Homo sapiens: one gene and its partners. The protein of the gene in region 3 purifies or fractionates together with the protein of the main gene of each other region. This does not show direct contact. Each region holds a gene or a part of one and is shown on either strand. Other genes may lie near its edges.

What was found. The genes of interacting proteins can lie anywhere in the genome.
Region 1: the proteins of RASEF (region 3) and BLTP3A purify together in Homo sapiens (affinity purification with mass spectrometry; one large-scale study listed by BioGRID and IntAct). This does not show direct contact.
Region 2: the proteins of RASEF (region 3) and BLTP3B purify together in Homo sapiens (affinity purification with mass spectrometry; one large-scale study listed by BioGRID and IntAct). This does not show direct contact.

The regions. Positions count from the first base shown.
Region 1 is NC_000006.12:34,795,083-34,798,582, reverse strand, and holds part of BLTP3A (bridge-like lipid transfer protein family member 3A), read right to left. Parts: intron 1-3,500. UniProt on the Homo sapiens protein: Tube-forming lipid transport protein which probably mediates the transfer of lipids between membranes at organelle contact sites. May be involved in the retrograde traffic of vesicle clusters in the endocytic pathway to the Golgi complex.
Region 2 is NC_000012.12:100,136,375-100,139,874, forward strand, and holds part of BLTP3B (bridge-like lipid transfer protein family member 3B), read right to left. Parts: intron 1-3,500. UniProt on the Homo sapiens protein: Tube-forming lipid transport protein which mediates the transfer of lipids between membranes at organelle contact sites. Required for retrograde traffic of vesicle clusters in the early endocytic pathway to the Golgi complex.
Region 3 is NC_000009.12:82,996,300-83,001,703, forward strand, and holds part of RASEF (ras and EF-hand domain-containing protein), read right to left. Parts: intron 4,832-5,404; coding exon 4,597-4,831; intron 4,272-4,596; coding exon 4,134-4,271; intron 4,018-4,133; coding exon 3,870-4,017; intron 2,148-3,869; coding exon 2,066-2,147; intron 828-2,065; coding exon 713-827; intron 1-712.

The DNA.
Region 1 (3,500 bases), on a different chromosome or scaffold from region 3:
ATTAAAAATACATTCACCAGAATGGCTACAATGCAAAGCACTGGCAAGGATATAAAATAATCAGATCCCTCACACACTTCTGGTGGAAATGTAAATTGGTATAGCCACTTTGGAAAATGGTTTAGTGTATCCATTAAAGCTAAACATATACATATTCTACAATCTAAAAATTCTACCCTACATATATTCCCAACAGAAATGCGTACATTTGTTTAAAGGACATGTACTAGAATGTTTCTAGTAGCGCTGTTCATAACGGCCCTAAACTGGTATCCAGAAGTCCATCAACAGTAAAATGTACAAGTAAACTGAGGTATTATCACATAATGAAATGCTATACAGCAATGAAAAAGAATCTACAACTTGATGCAAAATATGGATTAATCTCACAAATCTTGCACTAAAGAAGCCAGACATAAATGTATAAATATAATTCAATTTATATAAAATACAAAATTGAATCTATGCTGTTAGAAATCTGGACATTGGTTACCCTTTGGTGGAGATAATGACTGGAAGGAGACACAGGGCAGGGTGGGAAGCTTCTCAGATGCTAGTAATATTGTTTCTTCAGGTGGCTGCTAGTGACATGATCATGTTCAGTTTGAAACACTCAATAGATGGGAGGCATTATAGCAGCAGAGTGGTTGAAGAGCACAGCTCTGGAATTGGAATGCCTGCATTTGAATCTCTATCACTTACTAGTTACAACTTTGGGTAAGTTATTTAACTTTTCTGTGCTTCCTTTCTTCATCTATAAAATATGCCTAATATGCACCTCATAGGGTTATTATGGGGACTAAATTGTCTTAAGATTTGTAAAGTGCTTATTAGCACAGTGGGCTATTATTAAATACTTGCTAAGTAAATAAAAGTGCTTTATTCTGAAGCAACACAAGAAAATGAGAAAGGGAAACAGAAACATAGGATTTAACTATTACTAGAAAATGCATGAAATAATTATTTTGGAAAAGAACGTGATAATAACTAAAGTCTAGTGTAAAAAGAACATGACTGGAAGTTGTGACTAGTCCGACAAGCTTCCACCTAAGTGACCTTGGAAAAGTAACAGCCTCTCTGAGCCTGGAACTCCTACTATCAACTGGAGGCTGGCCCCGATGATCTCTAAGATCTTTGCTGCTCCTCAGTGTTCATCAAGATGATGAGTGGAGGCAGTCATCATGAACTAAGAGGGCTAAATTTGCAATCAGGCTCTCTTATTCTCCAAAAGAAATGCTGAACTCTTCTATGCCTCTGAATTTCATCTAACATGTTTTCAAAATATCTATCATGTCTATCAGCCAGGTCTCTATCGCTGAGGTTCACATTTCCTGCGGTCATTTAAAATAAATAATTAAGGCTCCTGATGGGTTTTAAAAGAGCTAGCCGGGTTTCTGTCATCCATGCCATCACAGTGGACCTAACTTCTTTGGCTACATTATATAGCGACTCTTTATTAAACATCTATTTATATGTCAGGCACTATAATAAAAACTTTATCCCCAATGCGCCAAAAAAAACTACTAGGTATGTATTATTCTTCCTCCTTATCTTTTACAGATAAGAAAACTAAGGCTCAGGGCCGGGCGCAGTGGCTCACGCCTGTAATCCCAGCACTTTGGGAGGCCAAGGCAGGCGGATCACCAGGTCAAGAGATCAAGACGATCCTGGCCAACATGATGAAACCCCATCTCTACTAAAGATACAAAAATTAGCCGGGCGTGGTGGCGTGCACCTGCAGTCCCAGCTACTCGGGAGGATGAGGCAGGAAAATCACTTGAACTCGGGGGGGCAGAGGTTGCAATGAACCGAGATTGCACCACTGCAAAAGGCTGCCCTGCTGATTAGTGGCAGGGCTGGAAGGTGAATCTGGCATGTTTGGCTCCAGAGCCCATGCTCCTTCCATTAACGATAGATGCTTGCCTTTCTTTACAATTGATCATATTTCTTCTTATTTGTATAACGAAAGGTCATTAGCTTAGGTCACGTAAAACAAGAAAAACCTAATTTAGTGAAAAATCAATTTTGAATATTTTTTAAATCATTGCTTTGTGTTTCTAAGAAAAGGTTTCTTCCAAGGTCTATTTAAATGAATACTGGGCATTAAAGCTATTTGCATTGAGCAGCAGTCATGAAAACCAAGAGTTAAACCCTTTAAAAGGCATTTATATTTCTTCCTCACTGCATCTCCAGTGCCCAGATTAGTGCCTGGCCTAGGGTAGGCATTTAAGAAAATCATATTGAATACCATTCTCTTCAAATCTCGTTTACCAAAATACTCTACTACTAAGGAGGGTGCATTCCAACAAGATACTTTATCATCTGAAAAACTTCATGTCCAAATAAGCATAATATGACTCACTGGTGTATCCTCTCTGCTGTGGGCCATTCTCCTGTAGGTCAAATGGCATCATCAGCAACAAGTAATTATCAAACACCTACAGTATTTATTTAATACACTATATCTTTATTTAACTTGATATGCCTTCCCGTCTCTCTCTTTCCCCATCAGGTTTGGGAAGCCACAGAGTCATAGTTCCTCCCCAGGCAGGCTAGCCTGTATGTGGTAAAGACTACACAGAGACACAAATGTCACATGTGATTAGGCAGCTTTTCCAAGCTAAACAAACACAAAAGCCCCAGGAGTTTGGCCTTTCCCCTAACAAGACTCATAATTTACCACCTCTTCCTGGAGTCCTGAAATTGCAACTATAATGTGACCTCTTCCTCAGTCCCCTGCCCAATGCTGAGAAAATCAGAAATTTTCCCCAATGTCTGTGATACTTATTCCTACTTCATCTATTAATAAAAAAGGCACTGTGTTCGCCAAGGAATGTGTAAGCATATACTGCTAAAATTTTTCTTTAAAAATTATATGTTCAGGCCAGGCACGGTGGCTCACGCCTGTAATCCCAGCACTTTGGGAGGCTGAGGCAGGCGGATCACGAGGTCAGGAGATCGAGACCATCCTGGCTAACATGGTGAAACCCTGTCTCTACTAAAAAAAAAAAAAAAAAATCAGCCGGGTGTGGTGGCACGCGCCTGTAGTCCCAGCTACTTGGGAGGGCAAGACAGGAGAATCGCTTGAACCCAGGAGGCAGAGGTTGCAGTGAGCCGAGATCGTGCCACTGCACCCCAGCTTGGGCGACAGAGTGAGACTCAGTCTCAAAAAAAAAAACAAAAAACAAAAAAAACTGTATGTTCAGGCTGGGCGCAGTGGCTCACCCCTGTAATCCCGGCACTTTGGGAGGCTGAGGCAGGATTCCTTGAAGCCAGGAGTTCAAGACCAGCATGGGCAACATAGCAAGACTTGATCTCTACAAAGAAATTTTTAAATTAGCCAGGGGCATGGTGGTGCATGGTCTCAGCTACTCAGGAGGCTGAGGCAGGAGGATCACTTGAGCCTGGGAGGTCAAGGCTGTAGAGTGCCATGATCGCGCCACTGCACTCCAGCCTAGGCACAAAGCAAGATTCCGTCTCTAAAAAACAAAAACAAGGCT
Region 2 (3,500 bases), on a different chromosome or scaffold from region 3:
AAGTAGTCCAATTTAGAAATAGGTTACAGTTAGTGATCCTACTCATGCTTCTTATATTAGAATAGGAATCGCTGAAGCTTCCCACAAACTGAAGCCATGTCTTACTCATCTTTGTATCTCTAATGCCCACTATGTGGCATATATATATATGTGCTCAAAAACGTTAAATACATAAACTCTCAAAAATTATTTACTGAGCTTTACCATAAAAGTTTATGATACAAATATTAGCCTATCAGTAATGATGTGAAGTTAGCATTTGAAAAAATAATGTCTGGCAGACTAAATAAGCTACACTGCATTTCCTTTTAGGAATGGTCAGTACTGGAAAGATTTTAGACCTAGCAGTATTGATCTCCAATTATATGCACCTTAACTTTTCTTCAGCAACTCACTTCTATGGCCATATCAGATAGCTTTTCTTTTCTTTTTTTTCTTTTTTTTTATTTTTTTTGAGATGGAGTTTCGCTCTTGTTGCCCAGGCTGGAGTGCAATGGCCCGATCTCAGCTCACTGCAACTTCCACCTCCCGGGCTCAAGCAATTCTCCTGTCTCAGCCTCCCGAGTAGCTGGGATTACAGGCATGGGCCACCACACCCAGCTAATTTTGCATTTTTAGTAGAGACAGGGTTTCACCGTGTTGGTCAGACTGGTCTCGAACTCCCGACCTCAGGTGATCCACCCGCCTCAGCCTCCCAAAGTGGTAGGATTATAGGCATAAGCCACGGCGCCCAGCCTCAGATAGCTTTTCCTAAACCAGATCTACTTCACTTCTAAAATCTTAAACTTCAATGTGACAGTTTCAGACAAAATCTCCAACCCTTCCAATTATCTCATTCCTTTACTCCATTACTTTTCCACCTAGATAGCATTCCCAATCCTTTGACGGTTCTTTCCTTTTCTCTCCAGGCTATCAGCTACCGCCCTCTCCTCCCCTTCCTTATATATCCTCAATCTAGTGGCCAATCCCATCAACACAAAGTGAGGCACTCTAATCCCTCTCATCACTTTGCCATTCAGGCACCAAATCCTGCATGTGTTTAACCCTTCTGAATGTCCATAATGAATATTCTTTTTTTCTTTTTTGAGACCAGGTTATGAGACTGGCTAATTTTTGTATTTGGGGTAGAGACAGAGTTTTCATCATGTTTCCCAGACTGATCTCAAACTGCTGGGCTCAAGTGATCTGCCTGACTTGGCCTCCCAAAGTGCTTGGATTACAGGCATGAGCCACCACACCTGGCCCCATTTTCTACTTAAGTTACTCAGAGTCCATTTGTAGACTCCGTATTTCCACCCCAGATATTGCTCCTAAACCCTAGACTTCAAAAATAAGACTGCTTTAATGAGCATATCCCTCTTACCTTTATTAGTAGTCACTCCTCACCCCCAGGATAAAGTTCAATTTCCTTAATGTAGCAAATGAGGCCCTTGGAAATCTAATTTAGTGCACTGCCTATTACAGATGACTAATGGAGCAACAAGCCTAACTCAAAATAGCCCTCTCCATTACCATATTTTTGCTGTACAACCCTTTGCCATTGCTAATTGAACCATGGGTAGACAAAACTGGGTCACAAAGGCTTTCTCTCTAGGGGATTCTGAAACCTGACAGGAGAGATCAAAGACTGGGAATTATGGAAGATAGGCCAGCACTCTAAAGCTGTAGCTCCCAACCAGGAGTAATTTTGCCTCCTATGAGACATTTGGCAATGTCTGGAGACATTAAACATCCTACAATGCACAGAACAGCCTTCACAACAAAGAACTATCTATTTCAAAATGCCAATGATGCCAAGGTTAAAAAACCCTGCTGCTACTTTAAGAGGAAGGTCCAAGAACTCTTCCAATGAGATTCTAGGAGCTAGCTGGTTCCTGTTCTTTCCTTGATTTGGTTGTTCAGATATTCTTCTGCTTTCTGTTACATTTCCCTTTTTACTTAAATAGATCAGCTTTCTGATGTTTGCAGGCAAAACAACTTTACTAGCACAGAACCCTAGCTCAATCATACGACACACACCTGTACACTTTAAGCTGGTTTCTCAATCTCGGAACTACTGACATTTGGGCAAATAATTATTTGTTGTGAGGGAATATGCTGTGCAATGTAGAACGTCTAGCAGCATCCCTGGCCTCTATTCACTAGATGGCAGTAGTATTACCCTCCCCTCCAAGTCTTGACAATTAAAAATATCTCCAGACACTGCCAAATGTCACCTCAAGACAAACTGACCCTGGTTGACAACTGCTGCTTTAAACTATACGATGACTCCACCGAGGTGAGGTGAATGTCTGCCCAGTCAACTCCCACTCCCAGGAAACCTTGTGCAGAGCACAGTATGCCCTTAGCCTAAGGGAGCGAAGGAGAAGAGAGTGTCTGTATCCAAAACTTCCCTACCCCTTTTCAGGTCCTGGCTTAATTAAATATACGTCCACTTTGCCGATTTGCAAGCGCCTGTTCACAGGTGTGTACATGTGTATACACATACACATACACACACACACACACACACTAATGTCTTGAGCTGAAAGGTAGCTTCTGCTTTTATTTCCTTTCTCACATTTGTTACGACTTCTCTTTAGAAGTTTCCATTCCCATGTGAAAAACTACTCTCCTAGAAAACCCTCCCAAAATACATTCAGTCCTATTACAGTTTGAAAAATCGGGGCAGTTTCTCCTTCAAAAGCTTTTCCTGTTTCACTCTGGAAAAATGTCACTACTCTAAGCTCCCCCATCCCACCAACACACCTCCTTGTCCTCATTTCAGATTCTTCAAGTAGATAAACTTTTTATTAACAACTGGAGAGATGTTTGGAATACAAACTAACAATTAGGCAAGGAACAAGTATATAGATTTACAGTTCTCAAATAGTTTAGCATTGAGTTAAAGAATCTGTTAATCTCTTAAGAACAATTCCTCTTCCATACTTTCCCAACATACCAGCTTCTCAAGTCCCTTCATCCAGGCAAAGATGGTTTTAATCTTGCAACTGCACTATATTTCAACCTCAAGGCTAAAAATGAGAGCTCTTTCTCATGTTGGTTCACAGTCTTCCTCCTTACTGGCAGAACTCCTCCCCCCATACAATAACTGGGTTATTTCCTTACCGGAAGACCCCTCATATAAACCCCTGTAAGAACTAGGTCATTTTCCTAGTTATTTTCCAGGATCCAAAGGCACCACATTTATTTAATGATTCAATTACTCACTGCCTCCTAAAGCCACAGGGAAACTGGTCATTCCCAAATCTATAAGAATATTGGCAGTAGTCTTGCCTCAGTAAAAAAAAGCAATGTAAGAGAAAGTAAGCTCATTCATGTTATGTATCCACATTCATGCAACAAATAGTTGTTGAGTACCTACTTTATGCCAGCCTCAAGACAAAAATCCCTGCTCTCATAGAGTCTACATTTAAGTGGAGAAAGACAAAAATACATAAAGAAATAAATATGTACGACAGACAAGCATGAGTGCTATGGAGAAAAATAATGCAAGCAAG
Region 3 (5,404 bases):
AGCATGCTGAACCATAGCTGGAACTGTAGTGTTATGTTAGTAACTGTTGGCAGCATGCTAAATGGGGTCAAAATCATTTACTTTTAAAAATTATTTACCATGAAACCAGAGGACAGGAATGTTCCTTAGGTGAAAGACATCATCTTATTTAACCACAGAAAGCACAGAAGCTATGCCCATGTTTAAAATATCAACTGGTATTTCGGTAGTACCTTGAGACATCTAAAGATCCCAAATCACTACCAGAATAAGGTTGAGAAGAGAAGAGAGCTCCCATACAATTTGAAACTTGACGCACGCTCATATCCAGGTGGTGTTTCACCTGTACTTCCCATGCCCGTGGATGCCCCCACATGCCCCCAACTACACTACACAACCAACCACACCATCTCCTTGTTTGTAATAACTTCTTCCTAGGCTACCTGGATTTTTACTTGCTTACGATGGGATTCTGATTTTATCTATAAGAAAACCTAGAAGTTTTATTCCCCAAAGCTCCCTTCATTAGTGTCCTTGGCTTCAGGGAAATGTGCCCAAATCCTGAGGAAGAGATGAATGCTGCCAGTTCTGCCTGTAGCATCCAATTCTTCCTGATGGCTTGGATCAATGGTTCCTAATCAAGTTCATTCTGACAAAGAAGAGAGACAGCATTTTCCAAGATGGCCTAAAACTTCCTCGTGTAATTTTCTGTTTCTCCATTATGATTTCTTACCTCAATCATATCTACCCATTCTCGTATGTTAAGAAAGCTTTTCTCACATGTAACATCATACAGCAGCAAAACACCATCTGCCTTTCTGAAGTAAGACTTGGCAATACTTCTGAATCTGAGAAAGAGAAAACCACATCATCAGTCAGTTTGTGTTGCCTCATTCTTCTTCTCTTTTATGCTCATTTTTTTCTCCTCTTCTAAAATCAACACCAGTTGAGAAGACTCTAACTGCAATATATGACTGAGACATAGGCATTTCAAAGGTCTCGAATGACCCAATGAAAGGTAACATGATGAGAATCTGGGTGACCGACTTAGAAAATCCAATCCTTCTCTCTACCAAACAACCCCAAGAATGTCTACAATCCCCAGAGCACAACCAGGGAAAGGTTGAGAGCACAGTTTCCAAAAATTTCAACCTCAGCAACAAGCTACCAGAACCCACATGTGGGACACAGAGGAGGCTGGAAGGAGATACGAACTAGAGAATACTTATTTTTGGTGGTGGTGGTGGTTAGGGAGTATTGTGGGTGGATGGAGGAACTACCAGTGTGGAACGCTGTAACATACCAGGACTTTACATACATGGGGGTCAGGAGATTCACCTTGGGAAGAGAACACCTCAACACACATGCCCTAACTTGAAACCCAGTGCAATATTTTATAAGTATTTTAAATACAGTCATGTCAACCACAAATATTTTTTATATGTTGAAATTCCCAATCTGCTAGAGAATATGAGCACCATGGGGGCAGGTATTTGTGCCTGTCTGTTCACCACTGAATCTCAGCATGCTGAATAATGCCTGGTACAGAGGCAGGCACCCCATACTTACGGGTTGAACAATTGAATGGATTTTGTTCCGAAGGAGTTAAACAAGATTAAAATCTGTGCTTAATGCTCTGCTTATCGGTAATGAATGCAAGGTAAAGTGCCATCACCAAATGCAAGTCTGCTATGCGGTTTGTGCCTCTGCCCTTAATCAAGGGGAGCTGACTGGTTCTCTTCTCCATCATTTATTGTTCTATAGCCAGGGAGTTCCTCAGGCTGTCACTGCACTCAAAAATGCTGCCTCTCATGTTAGCAAAGGGCACTCTCTGTCTCAACTGAACATCAGCTCAAAAGAAGCTTAAAGATCCTCTTCTCACAGGAGTCATAGGTAAATGAAGGAGATGTGCGAGAATATAAGCATTTTAAAGTTATAATACATTTTATAATTATACATGTAATTATGCATATAATTATAAAGTATGTTATAATTATAGAATTTTGAGTATGAAGAACATCAAGTGGCCTGCAAGGCTTGTTAATGCAAACCCAGGATATCCCATAGCGCTGCGGAATGCACTTGCCTCTCCTGACCAGCTGTATCCCAGAGCTGCAGAACTGTTCGTTCTCCATCCACAATGAGGGTTTTCATTTGGAAATCAACTCCTGAAAAGGAATGTGAGAGTGGAGAGCACGATGTAAATAATTCCATTGGCTTTTTACTTTCAAGCCTTCTTTAGATGAAGCAAAAGCCAATAATACACAGCTCAGCCAGGGAGGGAGGAATGAACATGACCTTTAAGGAGAGTGACCTTCAAATAGGAATGACAAGTCAGACCACACGTGTGTGCAGAGGCACCATCTGCAGGTTGGCTGACTTGGGGAATGATTTAATTTATGAGCCAAGGGAAAAATCTGTTTTATTTTCCCTGATGACTGGATGAACTCAGTCATATTTGTGTGTGTGTGTGTGTGGGTGTGTGTACATGTGTGTATGAGTGGGCATGCATGAATGTGCAGGTGTATACGTGTGTGTATGTATGTGTGTAGGTGCAGATACGTGTTTTGTGTATATGCATGTATGTATATGTATATGTAGGTATATATGTATAAATGTATGTATATCTAAACATGTATACATATGCGTGTGTATATATACACACGTTAGTGCACACACACATTTACATGCATCATGGTCTCTGACAACTGAACCAAATACTGTATGTAGTCTTTTTATGAATCAAATTGAAGTAAACTTTCAGCTTTGTTAATGTTGAAGAGTGTATCAGAGAACCATAAATTTACAAAGACACTCATGTGAAGAGGACAATCAGTCTGTTCTAACATTTCGGGTGATCAAAATAAGAACTCTTTAGACGAAGAAGAAAAATAAATGATAATTTGCATATCTTCAACTCCTTTTACTATTATGCAAATTTGGGAAATCAGGATACTACTTGTTCTATTGTTCTGTTGTGAAGGTGGGTAACGGATCATATATCTGGCTATGATTTTGACCATAATGACAAAGTGGCAATCCATATTGTCACTTTGTCAACATCAAATACTTCAGCAGAAAGGGTTTTCCTGGCCACCCTGCGTAAAACCGCACCTCTCCCTAAACTTCTTTTTTGTACCTTTTCCCTCCACTGGGATGTAAGTGCAGTGCAGGCTGGGATTGTCAGCCTTCTTCATGGTGTATCGTTTGTACCTACAACAGCATCTTGTTTTTAGTGGGACTCAGGAAATACATGCTGAATAAATGAATCTGATATCTCAGGATCTAAATTTGATTCAATTCATCTGATTGGCTAAGCAGATATCTCTCTTTTTTTTTTTTTGTGGCAGGGTCTCACTCTATCACCCAGGCTGAAGTGCAGTGGTGTGATCTCGGCTCACTGCAACCTCCGCCTCCCAGGTTCAAGCGACTCTCCAGCCTCAGCCTCCCGAGTTGCTGGGACAACCAGCACCCACCAGCATGCCCAACTAATTTTTGTATTTTTGGTAGAGATGGGGTTTCGCCATGTTGGCCAGGCTGGTCTTGAACTCCTGACCTCAAGTGATCTGCCTGGCTCGGCCTCCCAAAGTGCTGGGATTACAGGCATGAACCACCGCACCCAGCCAGATATCTCTGTCATTTTAATCTTCCTTTCCTAAAAGCAGGCCTTGGCCAAAACAAGAAAGACCTTTCCATAGACTAGGAGACACACACACACACACACACACACACACACACACACACACACACACACACACATTTATATATGTGTGCATACACAGAGAAAGAGAAAACTGTTAACTGAGCATCTGTGTATGTAATCCCTGAAGAAGAGAAAATCAAGCTAAGGAAGGTCATTTTCCCATTATCAACCGAAATACGAGCCATACCCAGGGTGGCGCTTATATTTTCTCGAAATTCATTCTTGCAAAGTCTCATGAGGAAACTAGACTTCCCCACTGCAGCGTCCCCAGCAAGTACAATCTTGTAAGCCTTCTGTGAGCTAAAAGATTTAGCGTTGTCATCTACCAGGTCTGTCTGGGGGGAAAAGCCACAGTGAATGATAACGGTATTGCCAGTTTTCATCCTAATAAGTAACACTGCACAGAAAATAAGCAGTGTTCATGAATAGGAGTGTCTCGGAGACCACCTACCTGGGGCGAGAGTGCTGAGATGGGCTTTCTTGATGAACTAACAATGCTGCCTTCACTAACAGACCCTTGGGGCTTCCAGTCTAAGACGGAAGCCACATCTTCTAAACCAAATGTCTCTTCATCCCTTATGTCAGGAACCTATTTTTTTTAAAATGTCAGCAGTTAAATTAAAAAATGTCAGCAGTTAAAATACAAAGTCTAAAATGTATACATTATGGATTAAAAAGAAGAAAACTATGCAGCTAAATCAACAGTCAATGCTATTAATATTAGGGAATAGAGTGACACTGAATGGCAATCTATGAGAATTTCTCCCTAACTCTGTGGAGGAAAAAGCATTTTACTAACTATGCTTTACATCTATGACCTTTAAAACAGATTTCCATGACAGATAGAAGGCAAATAAGGTGACAGATTTCAATCACGTAGAAGGCCTAGGAGAGCAGTGGTTTCTGGGGCTTACATCTGTGTCTGAAGCATCACCTCCAAAGCTCTCCTGCACCCCGTGTGACCTCTGAAATCCCCTCTGGTGCTTGTATTCCACTTCTGAGTCATACTCATTGGGATCTCTCAAGGTAGACAAGCCGCTGTCGAAGCAGCTTTCAGGCAGGCTGTCAACTTCACAATTTGTCCTCTGCAGAGGATCACAGAGGGCCAGGGAGTCACAGTCCTCATCCACATAGGAAGAGCGGGATGACCTGGTAATAAAGGGGAAGACCAATTTACCTGAGGGCTGGAAATGCTCAAGAACATACAGGCAATAGACCACATGCCATTAGATGGAATCAAGTAGGCCGACTGTGGCTAAGAGCCGCAGTGTTATTTCATGATTAGGCATTAGGGGAAATAAAATGCTCAAAGCACCATCAGTTCATTCTATGCAGCAATCAGTTAAGATAAAGAACCTTACATCAAACACTTAACAAACAAAGCCATTAAAAAAATAATGTTCTTTATTTCCTGATACAAAAAGAATTAGAGTACCTAAGACATAAACACAATCGCAAGTTGTATTCATAAAAATGTATGCAGAATATATGAGCTTTTTTACTCTAAGGTGGTCAGACCATATTCTGAACATTGTGTCCATTTCTGGATAACATCTCTACTTAAAAGGGCTGCTGAGAGCCCAAACAGAAAAGGCAACCACAATGTCAGACTCAAGACCCTCAGAGCTGAAAAATAAGATTCAGTGTACTCAACTTAACTCTTAATGGTTTCTCTCTTCAAATACTTGAAGAGCTGATACATGAAGAAGACCACATCCTCTC